Linked DNA regions of Homo sapiens: region 2 is linked to region 1. Evidence: fine-mapped QTL for protein levels in blood plasma. A gene starts in region 1. The other region holds a variant in brackets. All regions are shown on one strand. Distances are between the middles of the regions. Region 1 holds the start of CEL (carboxyl ester lipase). Region 2 has its middle 20 kb from the start of GBGT1.

What was found. PIP is the posterior inclusion probability: the model's chance that the variant is causal. Sun 2018 read protein levels with aptamers (SomaScan).
Region 2: its variant is fine-mapped to the plasma level of the CEL protein (Sun 2018, PIP 0.95).

Annotation. Positions count from the first base shown.
Region 1 is chr9:133,058,006-133,066,005 of GRCh38, reverse strand. It overlaps CEL (carboxyl ester lipase), which reads right to left and starts at 4,025. Exons shown (of 11, transcript NM_001807.6): 1 at 3,938-4,025; 2 at 1,452-1,602; 3 at 1,244-1,366; 4 at 769-966. The coding sequence starts at 4,003. GTF3C5 (general transcription factor IIIC subunit 5) reads right to left here. Exons shown (of 11, transcript NM_012087.4): 11 at 7,503-8,000. It overlaps LOC124902325, which reads left to right and starts at 4,674. Exons shown (of 2, transcript XM_047424377.1): 1 at 4,674-5,257; 2 at 7,832-7,925. The coding sequence starts at 4,674. The coding sequence ends at 7,925. RefSeq lists enhancers at 4,310-5,062, 5,063-5,814.
Region 2 is chr9:133,139,534-133,148,045 of GRCh38, reverse strand. It overlaps a transcript of RALGDS not described here. Among named protein-coding and RNA genes, the nearest start is that of GBGT1, 20 kb to the left of the region's middle. RefSeq lists silencers at 3,281-3,400, 3,431-3,530 and enhancers at 3,677-4,236, 4,689-4,778, 4,829-4,958, 5,358-5,407, 5,458-5,737. The variant A/G (reference allele first, on the strand shown) is at 4,248.

The DNA.
Region 1 (8,000 bases):
CACTCTGTCGCCCAGGCTGGAGTGCAGTGGCACGACCACGGCTCACTGCAGCTTTGAACCCCTGGGCTCAAGCGATCCTTCCACCTCTGCCTCCCAGGTAGCTGAGGACAGAGGCATGAGATACCACGCCTGGCTATTTTTTTTTTTTTTTTTTTTTTTGAGACAGAGTTTTACTCTTGTTCTCCAGGCTGGAGTGCAGTGGCATGATCTCGGCTCACCGCAACCTCCGCCTCCTGAGTTCAAGCGATTCTCCTGCCTCAGCCTCCCGAGTAGCTGGGATTACAGGCAAGCGCCACCACGCCTGGCTAATTTTGTATTTTTAGTAGAGAAGAGGTTTCTCCATTTTAGTCAGGCTGGTCTCAAACTCCTGACCTCAGGTGATCTACCCACCTTGGGCTCCCAACGTGCTGGGATTACAGGGGTGAGCCGCCGCGCCCAGTCCCCAGCTAATTTTTAATTTTTGTGTAGAGATGGGGGTCTCCCAGTGATTTTCAGGCTGGTCTTGAACTTCTGCGCTCAAGTGACCCACCTGTGTGGGCCTCCTAAAGTGCTGGGATTACAGGCGTGAGCCATCTCTCCCGGCCTCTGCAGCATCTTTTATTTTACTACAGCTACCAAGGGCCTCCTGCATCTCATGATTCTACTCCAGCTTCCGGGTCTTTCTGTGAACCGCCACTGGTTGTTTGGGGTGAGGGGTGCTGAGGAAAATCTCCCTGCTGGGCTCAGCATGCTGGTCGCCCCACCTCAGGGCCGAAGGCACCCACGCACCTGGCAGATTGGCGTCCCCAGTGCTGAGGAACCCAAGGGGGCCGACACGGTAGTTGAAGGTGACCACGATGACGTTTCCGCGTGTGGCGATCTCCTCGCCGTCATACAGGTAGTTGTTGAGGAAGTTGGCCCCATGGCCGGACCCCATGAGGAAGGCGCCTCCATAGATCCAGATCATAACGGGCAGGTCCCGGGAGACTGAGATGGGGGAGCGGCTGGTGACCCCAGACGCCCCGCCTGGCCCTGTCTCCAGCCGGTCCCCTGTCCCTGTGCAGCAGGTGCCTGGGGCCAAGACAGGGAGGTGCTCCAAGGCGCTGCCCTGCCCCAGGCTGGGCAACGGCAGTGGGCGCTCCCCTCCCCGCCTCTGTGGGATTTCATGGAAGTTCAGCTTTGCAGCCCCCAGACTCAAGCCAGGAGTAGACCCGGGGCAGTGGCTGCATGGGAGGGTCCCTTGGGGAGTAGAGGGGAGGCAGACCTTGCTTCCTGCCCTGGGGCACCCAAATGTTGAGGTACAGGCAGTCTTCATCCCCGTAGGTGCTGTCCTGGGTGATGGTGGCCTGCAGGCATCTCTTCTTGAAGTTCTTGGCCTTCAGGGTCCCTGCAGGTGGCAGGAGTTGGCATGAGGAAGGCAGCCGCCCTCACCCGCCCCGCCGCAGGGCCAGTCCGGCACCACCCACTCCCACCTTGCCAGCCAGGATGTGGCTGAGGATTTTCCAGGGCCTTGGTGGGAGCTGCGAAGGGGATGCCCTTGAAGATGTCCACAGAGTCACCCAGGAGGCCGAGCTTCTTATTGACGCCTTCCACGAACCCACCTTCTGTGTACACGGCGCCCAGCTGCGAGGGAGACACGGGCAGGGTCAGGGGGGCTCAAGCCCCATCGGCCTGAATCCGGAGGGGGCAAGGCAAGCCGACTCCGCGTGCCCAGAGGCAAAGACAGCTTCAAAGCAGGACAGCTCTGCACAGGAGACCCAGGCAGCACCCCCTGCCCTGCAATGCTCAGGGCTTTAGGATTCCTGTTCCTCTCCTTATCCCTGGGGGTGTCCTGCTCCCAGAATCTTAGAGGAAACTGGTTCAACCAGTGTTCCCACTAGGGAAGCCGGCCAAGAGGTGGGATGGAGGTTTGGGTTCTGGCTATGGCCGCCCAGCTTTGACTCCGATCCTCAGTTTCCCCATGTGGAAGACGAGCAACAGCCGTGTCTCCTGTCGGCCTGTTTGCCATCACATGGGAGGCCTGTCCAGCTCCCGGGAGGAGTGTACCCAATGCTCAGTGTACCCGGGATGTTTCACACCAACCTTCCTCCTTTCTGAGGGGTGGGGCCTGCTTTTCCCTCCTCCCATCTCCCTGCACAGGGCCTAGCTGGCTGGGCACAAAGTCGATGGCCCCATGCCCAAGTCCCCACAGTTCCTGAGCCCCCTGCTGGTAAAGAACCCCCTAGGGACCACACCTCCCACCCCCGCCACGCTTCCCTGTGCCATGAAAATGGCCTCTGTGCACCAAGCTGTCCACCCCCACGAGGGGCCTGGAGGTTGGTGCTCATCCACCCTCTGTCCCTGACGGAACTGAGGCTGGGCAGCTTTTGGGCTTGAAGTCACCCTGTTGAGAAGCAGCTGTCTGCCCCAGTGCCACCTCCTGTCCATCTTGGGCAGCAGCTCCCTCTTCCCGTGGTGCATGGTGGGACCAGGTCATTGCTTGCTGGCTGTCACCTGTGCCAGGTTCCAGGTGGGGAAGGGCAGGGTGGCCCTACACCCCCAGGCCCAGCCAGGGTCCCAGCAGCCCTCTGAAGTCTAGGGTGATGGGCCCCCTGTCACACTGGTGTGGGAGAGTGCGGCGGTTGGAACTGGAGGAAAGGAACCAGAAGCAACACATGCAGGCATCGTGGGCATCCCCTGCGAGGCATCTGTGTCTCCTTGTGCCAGTGGCGTGATCCCTGTGCAATTGAGACTGGCCAGAGGGCCTCAGGGTGGGGAAATGGGGAGGGGTCGTGATGACCTGCCGAAGGCCTCTCAGCACCCCAAGAAGAGCTCGCCCAAGAAGAAGGTGACCTCTCCTTTGAGTCAGGAGCCCAGGACCACTGCCCAAACCTCCCGGTCCCAGGGCCAGGGAGTGTGGAGAGCAGGCAGCAGAGGTGGAGACAGGAGTCCCCAGGGCCTGAGACACCGCAGGCGGCAGAACAGCGTGGTTGGGATCTGGGGTCCCCTGTGTGACTCCTGCTGGGGGCAGGGACTGGGCCGGGCACCGACACCGGCTTCCTGTGGGGCTTGGGGTTTCTGTGGCTTCTCCTTCACAGGCAGAGAGGGTAGAATTTATGGATGCCTCGAGAGAGCTCCTGCCTGCCGGCTCTCTTTCTGGAGGGACCCGGACCCGGGTGTGGAGTAGCTCGGCTTTCAGCTTCCTGCACAGGAATAGGAGGCAGCAGCTGTGCCATGCTGGGCAAACTGCCTGCCTGCTTCTCTCCACCCGTCTGCCTGCTCTCCACACTCCCTGCCCCTGGGCCCGTTTCCCCTTCTGTAAAATGGGAACAACAGAGAGGTGGAATCACCAGGATTAGCAAATGTAAATTCAAGAGGCCCAGTTACATTTGAATTTCAGGTAAACAGTGAATTGTTTTTTAGTATGTTTCATTTTTTTCTTTTTCTATTTTTTGAGACAGAGTCTCGCCCTGTCACCCAGGCTGGAGTGCAGTAGCGTGATCTCAGCTCACCGCAATCTCCACCTCCCAGCTTCAAGCGGTTCTCCTGCCTCAGCCTCCCGAGTAGCTGGGATTACAGGCACCCACCACCACGCCCGATTAATATTTGTATTTTTAGTAGAGACGGGGTTTCACCATGTTGGCCAGGCTGGTCTCCAACTCCTGACCTCAAGTGATCCACCCACCTCGGCCTCCCAAACTGGTGGGATTGCAGGTGTGAGCCACTGCGCCCGGCCCATAGAAATTTGTTTCAAATATTGCATGGGACATACTTACACAGCAGTTCTTGGCAGTTTATCTGAAATTCAAATGGAATTGGGCATCCTGTGTTCTACCTGGCACCTGTCCCCATAGAAATGAGCGTGAGTGCCCGGGATCTGCTGCGGGGCTGTGCTGGGCTCTTTCTCAGCCTGGCCCGAAGTTTCCAGATCTGATTGAGCGAGAGAGCAGCAGGACCTGCCCCTCTGCTGGGCTCTTACCTTCGCGGCACTCGCCACTGCCCAGCAGCAGGTGAGGCCCAACACAACCAGTTGCAGGCGCCCCATGGTGAGCATCAGCCTCTGGGTGGCCCTCCCCCTGGGCCTCGGGTATTTATGGAGCTGGATCCAAGGTCACATGCTTGTTCATGAGCTCTCAGGCACTCCCTCCCCTCTACCCCCTCAGGTGCAGGGAGATCCAGTTTTCCCCAAACCCACAGTGCACCTGTGCAGGTTACCACTTACCTGGGAGCAGAGGCAGGTGGCAAGGTGGCGGGTGGTAAGGGGGATGGTGGGGCCGGGCAGGGTGCACAGTGCCCTGCCTTCTGGTTTGTTCACAGGGCTTGGTGTCACTGTCAGAGAAAAGGGCATACTTTGTCTCCATGTCTCCATGCCCTGCTTGTCCCCTAGGTCCCCAAAGGGGCTTCAGAGGGGACCGAGCACGTGACTTCTGGGACAGAAAGGGCAGCATGCTGCAGGCCCTCCACTCATGTGGCTGACCTTATCTGTACGAGCTTTTCCTGGGGCCCGTGGAGCGGGTAGTCCAAGCTGGGTGCGAATCCCAGAGCAGCACAAGGCAGTCCCACTCAAGGGTGTGGAAGTGTCACCATCCAGCCTGATGTGTCCTGGGAGGGAGGACTAGAGGCTCAGGGGGTGTGGGTGGGGGGGTGCGGAGGCATCTAGCCCAACCATGTAGGTTTCCCTGTGGAAACAAAGGGCCCAGCCGAGGCCCTGGGGCATGCCCAGGCAGAGTGACAGAAGGGGAGGGAAAGAGGCCAGTGGGAGGGAAGGGAGAAGGTCGTGTGAGGTTGTGGAGGAGGAGGCGACTCGTATTTTCTGTGAACAGGTATTAATCCTGGAGCCAGGAAAGGCTCTGAGAAGTGAAAGAACACCACGAACAAAGTCTTCAGATGGGGCCTTTAAGCTCAGCCAGTGTGAGGTCACCCTCACCGAGACACTCAGTGGCAGCTCCAGCCACCGCACAGCCCTCTGCAGTGATGGGAACAGGGTGAGGGCAGCCAGAGCCTTCCCACCCAACAGTCCCCCAGGAGACACTGGGGCCTGTGCTTCCCACACCAACCACACTCCCGTTCTGCCACCCCTGCGGCCGGTGCCAGGGACCGAGTGGACCTGCAGAGCCACGTCTGTCCCTCTGTCTGTCGACCACAGCCGGTGCCAGCAATTCAGGAGGCCTAGTGGGCGAGGGAGGCTGGGGAAAGGACTGGAGGGTGGGAGGAGGAGCTCGGCCACAGGAAATAAGGGGCCTGCAGGTGGCTGGGGCGCCCCAGGGCAAAGGCATTTGCCTCAGACCTTTGCTGCAGTGTCATTTACAGTGGCTAAGGAGGAAAGGGGAGGGCAGAGGGGAGGCAGCAGGGAGAGGAAGGAGGTGGGGGAGGGCTGGGGCAGGGCAGAGGGAAAGGAAGGCCCCAGTTTATATCTATGTACATTTTTAGAGCAGCTTTAGGTTCACAGCAAAATTAGAGGAAGATTACAGAGATTTCCCGTATGTCCTCGCCCCACTCCAGTCTCCCCCGTTATCAACATCCCCCACCAGGGGGTACAGCTGTTAACACCTGATGAATCCACATTGACATGTCATTATCACCCGGAGTCCACAGAGGTTTTTTGTTTGTTTGTTTTTTTGAGACAGGGTCTCTGTCACCCAGGCTAGAGTGCAGTGGCACAATCATAGCTCACTGCAGTCTTGAACTCCTGGGTTCGAGGGATCCTCCTGCTTTAGCCTCTGAAGTAGCTGGGATTACAGGCGTGCGCCATCACACCCAGCCGATTTTTGTATTTTTAGTAGAGACTGGGTTTCACCATGTTGGCCAGGCTGGTCTCAAACTCCTGAGCTCAAGTGATCTGCCCGCCTCAGCCTCCCAAAGTGCTGGGATTACAGGCATGAGCCACCGTGCCCAGCCTCATACTTTATTTTTTTAAAATTGGCAAAAAAAAAAAAAAAAAACTTATTTCCTGGCTCTGTCTCTTCCAAAGCCCTAGCAGTAACGAAATCCCAGGAGCAAGCCCCACCCCTGGTGACCAGACTGGGGTCTCTAAACACCATATTCACACCGACTGAGTGCACCCTGGGGAGATGGTTGGGCCGGGTCCGCAACAGGAAATGCCAGGGAGGGGCTGGAGCCTGCAGCATCGTGGTAGCTGTAAGTAAGGAAGGTGCCCAAGACCCAAGGCTTGTGTCAAAGGACTACAGAGGTCAACCTGAGGCCGCCTCTGGGCAAAGATAGACAAGTTGGGCATGAAAAAGCAAGCCTGCAATTGACAGACGTGAGAGTTCACCAGGCAGCCCAGGAAACACGCTCTCCACCCCCTCCTGCCCTGTCACTGGCCCTTGCCAGGGCACTAACTCATTGTTCTGAAAACTGTTAGAGGTGATAACAGGCATTTTCCCTTCTTTTCTGTGAAAATAGTATTTCAGGGTAATCAAACAGACGATGAGGAAGATTCCTTTATAGGATTCCAGCTACTAAATGCAGAGGGAACGATATAATTCAAAAAAATCACCATTTTGCACCCTTAAGGAAGTAGTAGGTCCAGGCAATTATCAACGGCTATTCAAAAGCCATTAAATAGGCTGGACGCAGTGGCTCACACCTGTAATCCCAGTACTTTGGAAGGCTGAGGCGGGAGGATCCCTTGAGCCCAGCCTGGACAACATTAGTGAGACCTCATCTCTACAAAAATTCAAAAATTATCTGGGCATGGCGGTACACAACCTGTAGTTCCAGCTACTCAGGAGGCTGAGGTGGAAGGATCACCCGAGCCCAGGAGGTTGAGGCTGCAGTGAGCCCTGATTGCATCACTGCACTCCAACCTGGGTGACAAAGCAAGACCATCTCAAAAAAAAAAAAAAGACCCACAAATGAAACAAAAAACCACAGAAACCCAAAAACCGTTAGATAAAAGACCAACACATCAGGCTGACAACACCTAAACCTGCTGGTCAATCCTAGTAAGCAGACCTCCCGTGCATGCAGACTGACGCAGCCTAGGAAGAGACCTTGAACCCGAATCTGGCTGAGCCTCCACCTGTCCCCAGGAAATACAGGGGAGAGAGGAGCAGGTTCAGCACCACACAGAAGCAACCAGCCAATCCAGAACAGGGCCATTCTCTGACAACTGACTGTTTCTTCAACAAATACTCGGCACGCACACAGGTTGGGAGGGAGTGCTGCTGCCGACTTGGGGAGACACAAGAGGTGCCTCAGCCAAGGGCAACATGGGGAGCGGGGCCAGGCAGGCAGGCTCGGTGGGCTCAGGACCCACTAGTTTCACACTGGGCAGCCACAGGACAGCAGGGCCCGTTTCCCATGACTTTGTCAAGAAGGTATTCATTTAGAGAAGAACTGACCCCAGGCCTGGAGTCCTCCTAGCTGCCCTCACCCAACCCGACCACATGTGAGGGGGGCACAGGCCAGCACTGCCAGCATGTCACTGAATGAATGAAGGAATGAATGAAGGAATATATGAAGGGACAAAGGGGGCCCAAGCCCCAAGGCAATAAGAAGACTCCCCTGCAGCGCCAACATTCACACCAAGAAACCAAGACTTCTCGGGAAACTGGTTTAATAAGGACAATTCCAGAGGGGCCTGGCTGTGGCCAAAGCTGTGCCAAACGGTTGGGATCCAGAGCTAAAGGCACTTCTTGCCACGTGAGACCATGGGCGAGGCTCCCCACGCTATCTCCACCACCACAGTCATGAGAGCCAAGCGAGACTGGCCTGTGGCCTGGGGCTCCACAGCTGCCCAGCTCCACCTCCGGCATTTACTGGTCTCATCCTGAGAGGCATTGGGTGCCCACTCACTGGCTGGATGCTGGGCTGGTTCATGGGTGGCAGAGCCAGGGTATACCCTTTGGGGATGTCCCTAACCCCTCAGGACCAGAGGCAGCACCAAGCAGCATGTCACAGCCAGTGCTAGGGTCAGCTGCACCCTTTGCTGGGACTCTAGCTCTCCTCAGAGGGCCTCCTAGGGCCATTCCGGGCACTGTGGGTGGCAATGGGGAGCCCCGGCTCCCTCATTAGGCCAGACACCAGTCTGGCCGGGT
Region 2 (8,512 bases), 82 kb before region 1:
CTGAGGGCCTGGGGTGGTGCAGAGCGTGGCCAAGCACTGGACAACTCTTGTGGGACAAGACTGTCCTTGTTGGAGCCTCAGGGTTCTTATTTGGAAGTGGGGCCAGAGCCGTTGCCCTGGTTGGAGTGAGGAGGCCTCACGAGTGAACTGGACACCCCAGGACCAGCAGAGGGAAAGAGGGGAGCAAATGAAGCTTCTGAGGCGCCTTGAATTACCCCTGGAGCCTGCAGGTTCTGCTCCTTTGACCCCCTGGGACTCAGGAGAGCTGCTACCTTGACAACACCCAAACAAAGGTGTGTGTTTTGTTTTCTGGGTTTTCTGCCTGAGGCTGCTGCTGCTGTGCTAGTGCCGGCCACCAGGGGGAGGCAGTGCCCACTGTACTCATTGGAGCAACTGGAGTCAGGGAGAGCCCGGCAGGGTCCCTCTGGGGGACCCCGGCCTCTACCCAATGCACACCCCCCATTACTAGCATCCCTCTCCACAATGTTAGCTGCTCAGAGGCGGGAGGGGGCTCCAAGAGCTTCCTCTTTCCCTTCAGCAGGTGTGCCCAAGCACTCACCCTGGGTTGTGGGGGGGCAGCGTTGGGCTTGGGTGTGGCTCTGAAAGTGACCCAGGGGGGCCTGCCCTCCAGAGCTGGCAGTCTGGAGGGGGCGATGGACAGGGCACAAAAGCAAACAGGCACAGAAAGGAAAAAGCAGTGCTGCAGCGAAAATAATGCCGGGGCTGCCATGGAGGGCTGGGGCCTGCTGGGTGGGGATCTGAGAGGTCTCGCTAAGGGGACATCTGTGCTGTGACCAGAAGACAAAGCATGGGCCAGCCCTGCACGAGTCTGGACAGTGTGATGGAGAAGGCTCAGCAGGCAGGGCTGGGAGGCAGAAATGAGTTTGGCCAGAGAGGAGTGAGAAAGGAGGCCAGTGTGGCCCAAGTGAGCTGGGGGTGGGAGGGGCAGCCCAGGGGCCTGTGGACAGCTATGTGACAACACTACCCTAATGTACAGCTTCCAGCAACAGACATTGATCATCACACAGTTTCTGTGGACCCAGATCCAGGGCAGCTCAGCTGGGTGCCTCTGCCCCCAGGTCTCAAGGGAGGCTGGGACTGGGGTCTCATCCATGGCTGGACTGGGCAGGACCCGCCCCCAGGCCATTCTCATGTTATTGGCAGGATTCAGTTTTGACTGAGGGCATCAGTTCTTCTGTGACTGTTGGTGGGGGCCCTCCCTTGGTTCACTGCCATGTGGGTCTCTCTGTAGGGCAGGCAGCTCACGGCATCAGAACTCACTTCCCCAGAGTGAGGGGTGAAGGTGGGGAGGAAAACAAGAGCAAACAAGCAAGACAGAAGTCATAGTTTTTTGTAAATCTTGGAAGTGACCTCACATCACCTGTGCTGTGTTCTGTTGGTGAGAAGCCAGTCACTAAATCCAATCACCCTCGGAGGAAGGGGATCACTCAGCAACTTATGTACCAGGAGGCAGGGATCTCTGGGGCCAGTGTGGAGGCTGCCTGGGACAGTGTCTGAGAGGAGGCAGTCAGGCCTGATTCTAAACATAACGGAGGCTGGGCGCGGTGGCTCACACCTGTAATCTCAGCATTTTGGGAGGCCGAGGCGGGTGGATCACCTGAGGTCAGGAGTTCAACACCAGCCTGGCCAACGTGGTGAAACCCCGTCTCTACAAAAAAGAAATACAAAAATTAGCTGGGTGTCTCGGCAGGTGCCTATAATCCCAGCTACTCCGGAGGCTGAGGCAGGAAAATCACTTGAACCTGGGAGGTGATGAGTGCAGTGAGCCAAGATCATGCCACTGCACTCCAGCCTGGGCGACGGAGCCAGACCCTGTCTCAATAAACAAACGAACAAACAAACAAACAAACATCATGGGAGCCATTGGAAGGTGTTCCCATTGGAAGATGCTCCCATATGCCACAGGGGGCCGATATCTGATTTTTGCTTCATTTTCAACCCGTTCATGGTGCAAATGAGGAAACCAGACCAAGAAGGGAGTGACTTTCCCCAGATCACAGCACCAGTGCCCAGCCTGTCCGACTTGTATTCCGGGCTGTGTCTCGCCCCTGTGAGAAGTTTCTTTCCTCACAGTTGTAAAGGCCAGAGGTCCAAAATCCAGGGGTCAGCAGGACCCTGCAGTCTCTGAAGGCCCTTTTCCTTCCTAATCCTTCCATCTCTAAGTCTGTGAGGCAGCTAACAGGTTTTGTAGTATTGTCTCACATTAGCGTGGTGATGTCCCCAGGAAGTAGACGTTAGAACCATCCCCATTGTGCAGGTCAGGAGACTGGGGAGGCCCTGAAAGGCACAATGGCTAGTTTGGGGTCACAGAACTGGCAAGAGGCAGGAGCTTGGTGACCCAGATGGCTTCCCCTCTCTGAGCCTCAGGGGCTGGGAGCATGAGAACACACTGGTTGGCTGTCCCAGCTCCCAGGGTGGCTGTGAGTACCTGGAAGTGCCCCTTGTCTCCCCTCACACATCTGCCATCACTCTCCCCATTTCCTTAACCCCCAGCACTGCTGCCACTTGATTTTTACGAACATCTGAATATGACGAACATACAGATTTTTACGAACATCTGAATATGACGAAGTAGCAAAGGTGGATATTCACTCATTCATTTCGTATCTGTCTCCTGGGCCCAGGCCATGCCGGGGCGGGGGGTGGGGGTAACAAGAATCCGGGGAGTTGCCAGGGGAAGGGGAAGTGCTCATCTGGGGAGTGCGTGGGCACAGAGAGATTCCAGAAGGAGGTGTCCTGTGGTCGTGGTTGATTCGTGGAGGGGAGGTGTGGTGATGGCACAGAGGGTGATGACTGGGACCAGTGTCTATCGGGTCAGCTTCCTGGGCTGCTGTCACAAAGTGCTGGGTGGCTCAACACAACAGAAATGTATTCTCTCACAGTTCTAAAGGCCAGAAGTCCAAAATCCAGGGGTCAGCAAGGCCATGCTGTCTCTGAAGGTTCTAGGAGAGGATACTTCCTTGCATCTTCCAACCTCTGGTGGCTGCCAGTTTCCTTGGCATTCGTTCCTGGTTTTGTAGACGTGTGACTGCAAACTGTGCCTTCATCAGTTCGTGTCTGTCCGCCTGTGCGTGTCTGTCCAATTTTCCCTGTTATCATAAGGATAGCAGTCATTGGATTAAGGCCCACCCTAATCCAGTATGACCTCATCCGGATTCTATCCGCACAGACCCTATTTCCAAATAAGATCTCATTCACGGGTACCAGAGATCTTTTTGTTCAGGGACACAGTTCAACCCGTAACAGGAGTATTGGGAATGATCCCCCTCCCAAAGGCCGGGTACCCGCGTGCCTACGGGGACTAGGGGAGCAGCGGGGAGTCGGAAGACATCGCAGGAACCCAGCCCCCAGCCAGGGGGTGTGGGGGCGTGAGCGGAGCCCGCCTGCTCCTCAGCTTGGCGCGCTCTGGCGGCAGCACCAGCAGGTGGCGCTGTGCCCTCCCGTGCGGCCGCCCAGCCCGGCGCGGAGCTGCCGCAGACAAAGGTCTCGCTTTCGGGTCGCGAGGAGCTTGCGCACAGCTGTAAACAGGCCAGGGGCACGGCCACCTCATGGGTGACACACACGGGAGGAAATCAAACCAGGCGGGGCCGAGGCGGGGTGACTGGGTGGCGACTTTGCGTCGGAGGCCGGCGGGGGGCGGAGGAGGAGGTGACAGGGGTGGCGAGGAGGACCATGGTTTGCAGACCGTGGTGTCAGCGGGGCGGAAAGGAAGGCAGGGAGGAGGGATAGGGGACCTGCGAGGCTGCAGGGGCCAGGAGTTTGCCTTTCGTTTGGTTCCTCGCCTGCAAGCTGAGCCGGCCTTTCTCAGGCCTCTCCAGAGGCCGTGCGGCTGATGACACTGCGGTTTGCAGATAGCTCTCCTGTTACTGCAGGCCCAGGTCTGCGGGTGCTCGGAAGGCAGCCCTGGGCACGGGTGGGCTGTCTGTGCAGATAGAGACTTGAGGGGTCCTTCCCCCCAACCCCAGCCCCAGACCCTGCCTCAGGGGAGCTGGGATGCCTGAGGTGGTCCTGCTGCTCCTGGTGGGGGTCAGCACAGCCCCTCAGAGGCGCCTTTGATATACAAAGGGGCGAGGCAGTGTGGGGCTGAGGAGCAGGGGTCAGGTCCCCGCCATGGAGCTGCTCACATGGCATCAGCGAAAGGGAGCGGAGTGCACAGCGGGCCGCTGGCCCAGGAGTGGAATGAGTGGAAGCCATTCCTTTATTTTATTATTATTATTATTATTATT[A/G]TTATTATTATTGTTGTTGTTGTTGTTATTATTATTATTATTATTATTATTATTATTATTGAGACAGGGTCTTGCTCTGTGGCCCAGGCTGCAGTGCAGGGGCCAGATCACGGCTCACTGCGTCCTCGACCTCCTGGGCTCAGACCTCCAGAGTAGCTGGGGCGGCAGGTGCACGCCAACACTCCCAGCTAATTTTTGGATTTTTTTTGTAGAAACAGTTTCACCATGTTGCCCAGGCTGGTCTCAAACACCTGGGCTCAAGGGATTCCCCCCGCCTCGGCCTCCCAAACTGCTAGGATTAAAGGCTTGAGACACTGCATCCAGCAAGAGGCCATTTCTTACTGTCACCTCCCTACCCGCACAAGGCCCTCCCACCACCTCCTCGCTCACCGAGCTACCAGGCCCGCCCCTGAGGCTGCTGGTCCTTGACAGTTGGTTCAGCGATTGATTCACACAGCAGATACTGGCCTCTGTACACCTGGCTGGCGCTGGGTGCCTGGCCTGTGGGAAGCACCCTGGCTTCTGTGGAAGGCTCAGGGGTATGGGGCAGACAGATCTTGTGGAGAAGGCATGGGCTGCGAGCCTGGGGACCTGGATTCAGTGGCCACTCTGCCATCAGTGGCGTGGTCAGTCACCATTGCACGCTAGCCACAGGACTATTCTCCACAGAGTCCTTCCCTCTGTCCCCTGCTGCAGAGGTGCCTGGTGATGACAGCCAGCCTGTAGGCCTTGTGCTAAAGTGTCCCTTGTATCTGCTCAGCACTCTGCAAGATAAGTGCCACTGCCATCCTCACTTCCAGGTGGGGAAACTGAGGCACTGGAAGGGGAAGGAACTCCCACAGCTAGGTAGTGGCAGCTTGGCAATGGCGCCTCCCCGTGTGCACACAAGCCTGGGAAGGGCCAGGCACCAGGACCACATTCCTTCCAATTACAGTGGCCTTCCAACGGTCAGGGCTGGGCCCGGCTGCTGGGCAGGGCGGGGCTGGGAGGCCCTAGGCCCCAAGTGGTGGTTAATGGCGGCAAGGAGACATAAACAGAGCTAATGAGCCCCTTTCATCGTCTCCCTGCTCTAATGAAGGCCTTGGACTCTGGGCTTTGCATTTTGGGGGTTCTTGATTCTGGAGCCTCAAAGAGTCTTAGGGCCAGGGGTATGTGGGCCCCCCCATAGGGGTGGGGTGTGAGCTTATGGACTCCCAGTGTCCCCTCCCAGGGCAGCCAAGCCAGGGTGAGGAAGTGGAGAGGAAAGGGAACGGGAAGCATTGTGGCATCCCCCTAAGAATGACAAGCCCCAGAAAAAAGGGAGTGTTCCCGTGGCAACCCAGAGCAGTTGCTTGGCAACTGCTGGCCCCCAAAATACTTGCCTGCAGGAAGGCTCCGGGCTGGGGCTTTCCGATGGGCTTTCCGATGGCTCACTTCCAACCCCCACCAGCGCACACCCACCCCTGGCCCAAAAAGAAGACTCTGAGGCTGAAAGAGAAAATGCAGAGACCAGGGTCCAGGACCTTCATTAGAGCCTGGGGAGGAAGGGGCCTGACCTGCTGAGTTTCCTCAGATACTTCTCATGGCCCTCCACCCTGACACAGGACCCAGTAGACTCTGCCCCTGGATCCTTCCTGAGGGACACCCCAGTCCACTCCCCCCTCCCCATCTCCCCACTCTGCCAGCCACCCGGCATCAAGCCAGTCCCCTAGCAACAGAGGCCGCTTCCTGGATACCTGAGTGAGAGTTGACAGTGGCAGAATGTCAGAAAACGCAAGGTCAGAAAGCACAGCGATGGCTCGGTGCCAGCCAGAGTGTGTGGGGCCATGGGGTACCACGTGTGGTACCGTGTGCTTTGCCGCCCTGCAGCCGTGGGCTCCCTGGCCTGGGGCTGGATGGCATGCCAGGTTGTGGTTGGGCTGGGTACAGCCCTTGGAACAGGGGACTGTGGTTCTGGGCCAACTTTGATACCGACTGACTATGTGACCTTAGTGTGTCCCTTCTCGCTGGCCTCAGTTTCCCCATTGGTGGCCCATCTACCCCTCTGCCTGTGTGTTTACCGTTCAGTGCATAAACATTGCCCTGTGAATTATGTCACCTACTGGGGCCTTGGGGCAGGAGAGTGAGGGGACCAGGACCAGGCCGCCACTGCCCTTCCTCCTCACATGTCGGCATCCACCTCGGCCATCAGGCCCCTGGTCCTCAGGTGAGGCAGGTGGCTTTGGAGCAGGACACCTGGGTCCAAATTCCAGCTCAGCGCTTATTGCTGGGCATCCTAGAAGCAGCACAGGTCCCCTCTGAGCCTCCCTGTCTGCCCTGAGGTCCCCGCAGTTGCTGTGAGGGTGTAAGAAAGCCCTGCCCTTGGGCTCCCATAGGGGCTGCCTTAGTTTGTGGGCACCCACCCTGCACCCAGACTTGGGCACTGCGGGAGCCGAGGTGAGAACATGGATGAGGGGTGTCCAGCCTGGAAGGAGCGAGGTGGAGCCCCAGACCCTGGGAGAGGGTGGGGCAGTAGAATGGTGGGAAAAGGCAGGTGGGGCCACACTGCCCAGTGGGTTGGACTTTGGGGATGGGAAGGCTATGAGACCTGGTTGCCTCAGATGTTCTCTCTGGGGATGGCAGTGAGGGTAGGACTGTTGGTGACAACTCTGCAGGAACTCCCGGTGCTCTCATGGAGCCAGGATGCCAGTCTGACCCTGGTCATTTGCTCACTGTGTGACCCTGGGTCATGATTTCACCCCTCTGAGCCTCCCTTGCCCCATCTGTCAAATGGGCAAGGGGTGTGCCCACCTCCGGAGTTGGGTACTGGGCTCGTATGTTCACTTGGGGGTCGTCGGCTGGGCTCAGGGTGATCCCATGGGGACTCTGCCCAGCCACCCCCAGCTGGAGTGCCACAGGAGGAGGGGCAGGGCAGAGGGCAGCACAGACAGTGGCGGGGAGCTGCCGGCCCACAGCCCAAGGTGCGTGCAGCCCCGGCCCACGTTCTTGCCGGATGCCACGCCAAGAAGGCGGGCGGATGAGGCGAGCCCCCAGCCCAGCACCAAGGAACAGGCTGCAGGAAGCCAGTTGGTGGGAGGGAAGATTCAGGCACACAGCCCCACCCACCCTGCGTGGGTGCTGCACTAAGGACCTTCCCCACCCCCTCCCCCACGTTGGCCTCCCCTCCCTGCACTGCATGGTGGGCACATAATTAACTGAATTGAGCTGCCCAGTCCTTCTGGGAAGGATAAGGGGGGCCGGGACCCACTGCCTGCTGGAGGGCACCCCAGTCCTTCCCTCTTTCTAGGTTAGGGTCCAGAAAGGGCTCCCATGGGAAGGGTGCAGGACCTCTCTGCTGGACACCACCCGAGAGGTCAGGTGTGCCCATCTGACCTTTGTGTTCCGAGGGAGGAAGGCAGGGAGGGGTGGGCTTGTCCAGTGGAGAGAAAGAAGAAAGCACCCTTGGCCAACCAGAGGCCCTGAGTCCAGGAACTTCCCCCACCTCTGGCACCCGCCCCTCTTGGGACTTTGTCCTGATCCCAGATGTGTGTGTGGGGGGGTGCCCTTTGCCTGTAATGTAAGTTCAAAACTGGGAGGGTGGGACCGTGGGGAGGGTGGGACCATGGGGAGGGTGGCAGAAGGTATTTAAGTCCTGGGGGCTGCCACCACCTGACCTGAATCCATTCCAAAGGGATTCCCGCTCCCACCCCACCCCACCCCACCCCTGCTGGGCTATAGCTGCAGCAGCACTTATCTGTCCCGATGATCAAGTGATCAGCTGATTAATCACCTGACTAGTGCTGTCATCTGTCACGATGTTCACCAGGAACAGCAGCCGCAGGGAAGTTCGGGCTGTCTAGAGGTCAAGGGGAGAGAAGCCTGGGAGGTGGGATGGGAGCCCTGGCTTGGCCTCAGGGGACCCAGACAAGTGGGTTCCTTAACTCCTCTGTACCCCCATTGCCTCCTCTGTGGGCCTACGGATGTGGGGGAGTATGAGATGTTCCTGAGGCCCCTGGCACCGCATGGGCAGGCCCTCCGCAGATGGCAGCCAATGTCTGCTCCGCTTCGCAGAAGGGAGATGGCCGATGGCCCACCAGCTCCCGCTGCCCTTGGGGAGCCAGGGTGTGGGTGGAGGGCAGGGACACTTGCAGGCCCTAAGTTGAATCCACAGGTTTTTTTCAGGTAGGGGAACTACGGCCCCGAGGAGGCGAGTAAGTTGCCCAGGCCACGCATCCCACTCTCCCCCGACCCCCTTCTTCCCTGAGGCCAAGTTCCAGGCCCTGCTGCCCAGTTGACAGGACTGGAGT